2 linked regions of the Homo sapiens genome follow. The protein of the gene in region 1 purifies or fractionates together with the protein of each later gene. This does not show direct contact. Each region holds a gene or a part of one and is shown on either strand. Other genes may lie near its edges.

Region 1 (4,023 bases):
TTATAGTTATTTTTCCCAGTTGATGAAATTAAGGAAAAAAAAAATTCCCCAACATCCAAAAATGTCTTCGTCTATTCTTTTATTCTTTTTGAGTATTCTAAGTTCCCCGACTACATCTTCTTCGCTTGCAAAAACTCTGAGTCCAAAATAAAACAAAACACAAATTCTCTGCAAACTTTCACCTGACAAAAATTCCCACCCTTAGTCCCCCAATTTTCCACAAAAATGTTGGGACAGGCAGGAATTTGTATGGCACAGGCTCAAAGCTGAGAGGTAAGAATGGCTAGCTCCTCAGATATGCTGTCTTGGACAGTAACACATCCAGTAAGCAAGCCAAAAGCACTTTTGACTTTGAGTGCTACCAGCAAACTGCGAGCCAGGGACTTGCCAAGAGATACTCAGGCCTCCTCCACTTTGCAGGAGCCATTTCCACCCCTGGGGGAGACACCAGGTTTCATTCCTCCCTGGGTCCTCACCCAGGAACAGGGCTGACCCCTGGTAATCAAAGATTCACCCCTGACAAAGGGCTCACTTCACTAGAAAGCAATGTTTTTCCCTGTGTTTTCTATAGCAGACTGGGGGGCCAAGCATCACCTGACTCCATTTATTCGCTTTAGCTTATATAGAAAGCCTCATTCTGCTTTGTCAGCCAAAATATTTATATCACTTTTTTGTCGACTCAATACCATCCTCACCTCAGCCTTCCTCCTTTCCTTTTTAAGAAAGGAGTTGTCGCCAACATGTTTCTCCAGTTCTTTGCTGTTCATGAAGCACTTTCTAGTCCATTAACTCATACGATGCTTTCAAAAAGCCTGGAAGGGTTTAAGGATGGCCTGTCCTCCCACTAAACAGATGAACAAGTAGAGGCTGTGTCGGGGTCCCAGACCCCAAGGCCTTCCAGGGCTAGGCAGGCCACATACATGATTGAAACAGGATGAGGCTGGGGACAGATGCAAACAGGAAAGAATCTGTGAAAGACTCACAAACTCCAAACTTTCTGAACCCTGGGCTGGCAAAAAGATAAAATAACATACAAGAGAAGGGACCCACTCATCTTGTGGCCCTTAGTCTGTGACTCAGTTTACACAACTTACCCAGCATAGCACTAATAATTCGTACTAGTTATAAAAAGTAACGTGTATTTAAAAAGTAACATGTATGTCAAGAGTTTACAAAGCATTTTCAAACTTGTTATCTTATGTCATTCCTGTGAAGAATCATTACCAGCCCATTTCTCAGATGCAGAAATTAAGATACGGAAGGACTAAAGAACTTGTCTGTGGACTTGAAAGTGTGTAAGCAGCAAACCTGTCCCAAACCCAGGTCATCATCCAGGAACCCCAGGGCCTGCCTTGCCCCACTGCCACGTCACTTACACTGCTGAGAGACACCATCCAATCCAGCTGCCTAGCCACAGGCGTCTCCCCTTTGAAACCTGATCACTCCAGGATCAGGCAGAGAAGCAGGTCATCCAGCCCTGCTTTGATGACAACCCCAAGGGTATCTAATTATAACAGGGAAGGGAGGAGTCAGGATTCTCTCGCTATTTCTCAAGACCAAATTAATTTTAATTCCTTTTGATACAGTGTATACACACAGGGCAGGAAAAGCACTGGTTGAGGAGTGAAGAAATCTGAGGCTTTTAGTCCCACTTCCGCTTGTTCACTGAGGTCTTGGGTAAGTCACTCCACCTTCTTCCCAAGGCCTCAGTTTCTCTGTCTCTCTCTCTCTCTCTCTCTCTCTCTCTCTCTCTCTCTGTGTGTTTGTGTCTCGATAAGGAAGGAAAAACTGGCTTCATGTCCCATGGGGTGCGTGTGTGTGTGTGTCGATAAGGAAGGACAAACTGGCTTCATGTCCCATCTAAGCCCAACTGATGGGTAGCATTATATAATACTAAGGACTCTGAGGCCGCTGGCCATACTCAATGGAAAGGACTACCATGGTCAATTAGTGATGTCTGCCACAGGCTAGAGGATGGGGAATGGCAGCATGTATGCTACTTATTTACCATCCTTGGACTAGATGATGCACAAATAACATGCTGCAAGTGAAAAGAACTTTGCCCTTTACAAAACTTTTTTCTTACATCTCTCACAACTTTCACAAGAACCCTATGCATCATCATCTTCAATCATCATCATCAATATATTATCATCTCACCTTTACAGGTAAGGAAAATACGGTGCAAGGAAATGAAGTACTTTGGCAAACACCACAAAATGATTAACTGGTGGAGCAGAGAGGGGAGCCGTGCCTTGGCTCTCCGACTATGCTCTGCTCATTCTACCCTTGGAAATGTCAAACTGGTGCTCCGCTGTTGTCGGGCCAGCTCATGCATGTGGCTGTACTGAAGAGACCCCCCTCCCCCATTTACAGGACTTCACCTCCCTCCCACGGGCTACTTGCCCCTTTTAGAGAGGCCACAGCAAAATTACAAAACCTACACACAGACATGGCAGGAAAGTAGGACTAAGTCAGAGTTCCAGATGTTTCTTCCCAAGGTGAAGTCCTGCCTTCACTGTACAGGGCGGGGGGGGGGGGGGGGGGGGCCAAGCCCAGAGAAAAGTGAGGTAAACAGAGCATGGAGCCCCCACAGGTCATAGTCCTCCCCACCAGGAGGACAACAACACTCAATCCCAAGATGCTTTCAACTGATAGATGCACCATCGATTTTATAACAGCTTTTGGAGAAGAAATAAGAGGGAGAAAAAGTTCACTAGAAGAACAAATCTACTGTAAGGGGCATCCTGATTTCAGAAATATGGAAACGTGGGAATATGAACACTGAGGATCGATGTCTACCTTAACTTAGGATTCTATGCTTGCTTGCTGAAATTGGCCACAAAGTGTTAAAAATGACAGCATTTTATAAAACGTGCTGAAAAAAACTAAGCCAAGAAACAGAAGGTTCTGTTTTCTCCCATAAATTTTCCTTGAATCTTTGACATCTGCAAACCAAAATTCAACCAAAAATGGGGTCACATCACACATTTAGGTGCTTCAAGTTGAAGGAGCCCGTGTGCCTGGATATTCTGCAAACAGGCCCCTGGTGTTCAGTTCCAGGACACCTGGCTAAGAAGACCAGGCATAAATACAGGGCACTGCTATGCCCCATTCACCATACCTGCAAATCAGGCATCTGGGGGTCCCCCATCCACTTTAAAGAAATACTTTATACAAAAGGAGTGAGGAGGGCAGGGGTGAAAGTCATCAGACGAACATTTTAAAAATCCCCCAAGACATGTAAAGGAGCATTTCCCCAACTAAGGATCCCTGTTGGACTTATTATTCCAGGGGAGCCATGGCTTCAGAGCCAGCTGTAAGAAAATGTGCCTCGGGCTCCCTAATAAAACATTGGCTTTGACCAAATGGCCAAGCCCAAATTGGTCATCCACTCTTCACTAGACCCAAAGCCCACTGATCTGAGCTATTTCCAAAAATCAAATGAAGTCATCAAATATTTATGGAGCTGCTGCTCTGCGCCAGACCCTAAAATGAATAACCGGTGATCTCTACCCTCACAGATGTTACAAGTTGGCTGGAGAAGCAGAAATGCAAACAACCAACTCTGACCTGTGGGTCCACATTGTTTGGGAGGTACCATGGGGGCAGAGGGAGAGGAAGCCTACCTGGGGAAATTTGTTGGGGGAGCTCTACAGAAGAAGAAGTGCAGCTGATCTCGAGGAGGGTCTGGTTTCTCACGAAGCAGATATGAATGAGGGAAGGGGCACCAGAGGCAAGGGCCCCAGCATGAGCAGAAGCTCAAAGACATACAGGTCCACCCGCGATTGAGATGTATCCCTTTTAAAGCCTTGCCACAGGCTCAGAAACAAATCCAGAAACATTCCAAGGAGCTAGAGCAGCCCCGGAATGAAAGCATCCAGAATGCTTTAACAAGAAAGTCTCATGGATGGCAGGCTGTTTTAAAGCAACAGCCAAGAGTGTACATTCTCACTTGTCGCCTAACTTTGCCTGCTAACGATAAGCCACCAGGTTTCCAGGACTACCCCAAGTGTTGTCAGT
Region 2 (3,500 bases), about 11 Mb from region 1:
ATTGTTAAAAAATGATTAGCTCAAGCTGGGTGTGGTGGCTCTCACCTGTAATCCCAGCACTTTGGGAGGCCAAGGTGGGTAGATCGTTTGACATCAGGAATTTGAGACCAGCCTCAGCAACATAGTGAGACCCCCAACTGCCCCATATCTATTAAAAAAAAAAAAAATTGGCCGGGTGCGGTGGCTTACGCCTGTAATCCCAGCACTTTGGGAGGCCGAGGCGGGCGGATCACCTGATGTCCAGAGTTTGAGACCAACCTGACCAACATGGAGAAACCCCATCTCTACTAAAAATACAAAATTAGCCAGGTGTGGTGTCACATGCCTGTAATCCCAGTTACTTGGGAGGCTGAGGCAGGAGAATTGCTTGAACCCGGGAGACAGAGGTTGCGATGAGCTGAGATTGCACCGTTGCACTCCAGCCTGGGCAACAAGAGCGAAACTCCGTCTCAAAAAAAAAAAAAAAATCAGAAAAAATGATTAGCTGTTTTTAATGATCAGTTATATCACCTTGGGATGTTTAGCAATTCACTGTATAGAAATGCCTGAAATAAAATTTTTAACTTTTTTTAATGTTTATAAATTTAAAAAAATTATAATATGGAACACTTCACAAATTTGTGTGTCATCCTTGCACAGGTGCCATGCTAATCTTCTCTGTAGAGTTCCAATTTTAGTATATGTGCTTCTGAAGCGAGCACAAAATTTTTGACATGAAACAGTAGGTTTTTTTTTGTTTGTCTGTTTGTTTTGAGATAGTCTCACTCTGTCACCCAGGCTGGAGTACAGTGGTGCCATCTTAGCTCTCTGTAGCCTTTGAACTCCTGAGCTCAAGTGACCCTTCTGCCTCACCCTCCTGAGTAGCTGGGACTACAGGTGTGTACCAGCACACCTCGCTCATTTAAAAAATGTTTTTGTAGAGACAGGGTCTTGCTTTGTTGTCCAGGCTGGTCTTGAACTCCTGGCCTCAGGTAATCCTCCTATTTTGGCCTCTCAAAGTGCTGGGATCATAGGCGTAAGCTACTGTGCCTGGCCCATGAAACACTTAAATTTATTCTTATGGTAGATAATGTATTTGTAGTTTTTTTTGTTTGTTTTTTTTGTCATTCCAGTAGAGATCAAATTACATATTTTCAGAATCAGTAAAAAGGGGGCTTGTCCCAGATATTAAGAAGAGGATGTTGTAATAACTTTCATCATTAGCCTTTAAAAAGAGTGCAGTAACAAATTTTGCCAGTAAGGTACTTGTTCTATGAATTAGTATTTACTTTATCAAACCAGCTTATGTTAGGAATCATTTGCTTTTAAATCTAGGGAAAAAATTATACCTTGATTGCTTTGTGAACGCTATAAGGTAATGTTCTTAATATTAACTTAAGGCAATTTAATGAATGAGTCAGCTTTTACAAATTAATTTAAAAAGCTCTAAACAAATGAAAAGTACAATGTCAGAAACAAATGTATTGTGCTTTTTTTCCCTAATGTTGATATCTTATGTGTTAAAGAGAAATTAAAGCAAAAATTTATACTTTCTCTAACTCTTAATCTAAAAATAGTAAAAGCTGACATAAGGTACACATTTTTTGGGGGATACTATTTCATATGCCTGGTCAGGTGATATGAATAGTATTATGAAACAGATTTTTAGAACAGAATAGACGTGCTTGCTTTCATAGAGACGTATTTGTGAGTATCTGTCTGTAGCTTATGTCTCCCTACCACTGCTTTGGGTTGCAGGTAGGCCGCCTTTTGCAGCAGTTAGCAATGACTGGCTCTGAAGAGGGAGATCCCCGAACAAAGAGCAGCCTTGGAAAGTTTGACAAAGTAAGAATAAATATGATTTATAGAAAATTCTGAAGTATTAGTGAGCCTAACTGTTCTCTTTATTAAATCTTGTCCTTAGGTGATATCTAAATTAAATGTTCTTTTAATTAGCTACAGTATTGGATCAGCAGCATTTAAAGATGATTAATTCCCACAGATGTATTGAGGAGATGCCGTCGTAAGAGAATCAAAGAGCTGTTAAGATTATTTTATTTTAAAAAGTTTTTTTTTTTTTTTTTTTTGAGATGGAGTCTCGCTCCGTCGCCCAGGCGGAGTGCAGTGGCATGATCTTGGCTCACTGCAACCTCTGCCTCCGGGTTCAAGCAACTCTCTGCCTCAGCCTCCCCAGTAACTGGGATCACAGGTGCCTGCCACTACACCCGGCTAATTTTTGTATTTTTAGTAGAGACGGGGTTTCACCTTCTTGGCCAGGCTGGTCTTGAACTCATGGCCTCGTGATCCACCTGCCTCGGCCTCCCAAAGTGCTAGGATTACAGGCGTGAGCCACCGCGCCTGGCCAACTTTTAAATTTTCGAGTCAGTGTCTCACTCTGTTGCCCAGGCTGGAGTGCAGTGGTGTGATCATGGCTCAAACTCCTGGGCTCATGCAGTCCTTGCACCTTAGCCTCCCAAGTACCTGGGCTATAGGGGCACACCACCATGCCCGGCTAAGTGTTTTTATTGTTATAGAGACGAGGTCTTGTTATGTTGCCCAGACTGGTCTTGACTCCTGGCCTCAAGTGATCCTCCTGCCTCAGCATTCCAGCGTGCTAGGATTACAGATGTCAGCCACCATGCCTGGTCGATAATTGTTTAATTTTAAGTGTAGTTTATAAGTTAACATCTATGACATTGTTCAATTAATATAGTTAAATAAAATTTTAATCAGTCTTACTTTGATTAAGCTGTACATTCAACCAATGAAAATTCAAGGATATTTGAGTAAAATTTCCCTTCCACGTCTCATCTCTAGTCTTCATTCCCTGCCCCCACAAAACATTCTTTTTTTTTTTGAGACAGAGTTTCCTTCTTGTCACAGAGGTTCGCTGTTGTCACCCAGGCTGGAGTGCAGTGGCGTGATCTCGGCTCACTGTTAACTCTGCCTCCCAGGTTCAAGCAATTCTCCTGCCTCAGCCTCCGAGTAGCTGGGATTATAGGCGTGAGCCACCACGCCTGGCCCCCAAAAGATTCTTGATGTTATTAGGTTGTTTTTCCTTCTAGAGGTCCATATGTTTACAGGCAAATTCCTACGTACACTATATACTTCCAACCATCCCTTCCTTTCCCTTTCAGAAATAGTAGCACAATGTGTATACTGTTCTGTGTTGTGTTATGTTTGTCTCCAACATCTTATTGTTATTTTCTTTTTTTTTTGAGACAGGGTCTCACTTTGTCACCCAGTGATGCCATCTCAGCTCACTGCAGCCTCGACCTCCCTGGCGCAAGCAGTCCTCCCACCTCAGCTTCCCAAGTAGCTGGGACTGCAGGTGCGCGCCACCACACCTGGCTAATTTTGGTATTTTTCATAGAGACAAGGTTTTGCCCTGTTGCCCCAAGTGGTTTTGAACTTCCGAGCTCAAGCAGTCCACCCACCTTGGCCTCCCAAAGTGCTGGGATTGCAGGCATGCACTACCACACCCAGCTCCAAGATCTTAGACTATATCAGTACAAAAAGAG

What was found.
Region 2: the proteins of ZNF618 (region 1) and GAPVD1 purify together in Homo sapiens (affinity purification with mass spectrometry, with the first as the bait; one large-scale study listed by BioGRID). This does not show direct contact.

What each region holds. Positions count from the first base shown.
Region 1 is NC_000009.12:113,882,509-113,886,531, reverse strand, and holds part of ZNF618 (zinc finger protein 618), read right to left. Parts: intron 1-4,023. UniProt on the Homo sapiens protein: Regulates UHRF2 function as a specific 5-hydroxymethylcytosine (5hmC) reader by regulating its chromatin localization.
Region 2 is NC_000009.12:125,303,326-125,306,825, forward strand, and holds part of GAPVD1 (GTPase-activating protein and VPS9 domain-containing protein 1), read left to right. Parts: intron 1-1,737; coding exon 1,738-1,824; intron 1,825-3,500. UniProt on the Homo sapiens protein: Acts both as a GTPase-activating protein (GAP) and a guanine nucleotide exchange factor (GEF), and participates in various processes such as endocytosis, insulin receptor internalization or LC2A4/GLUT4 trafficking.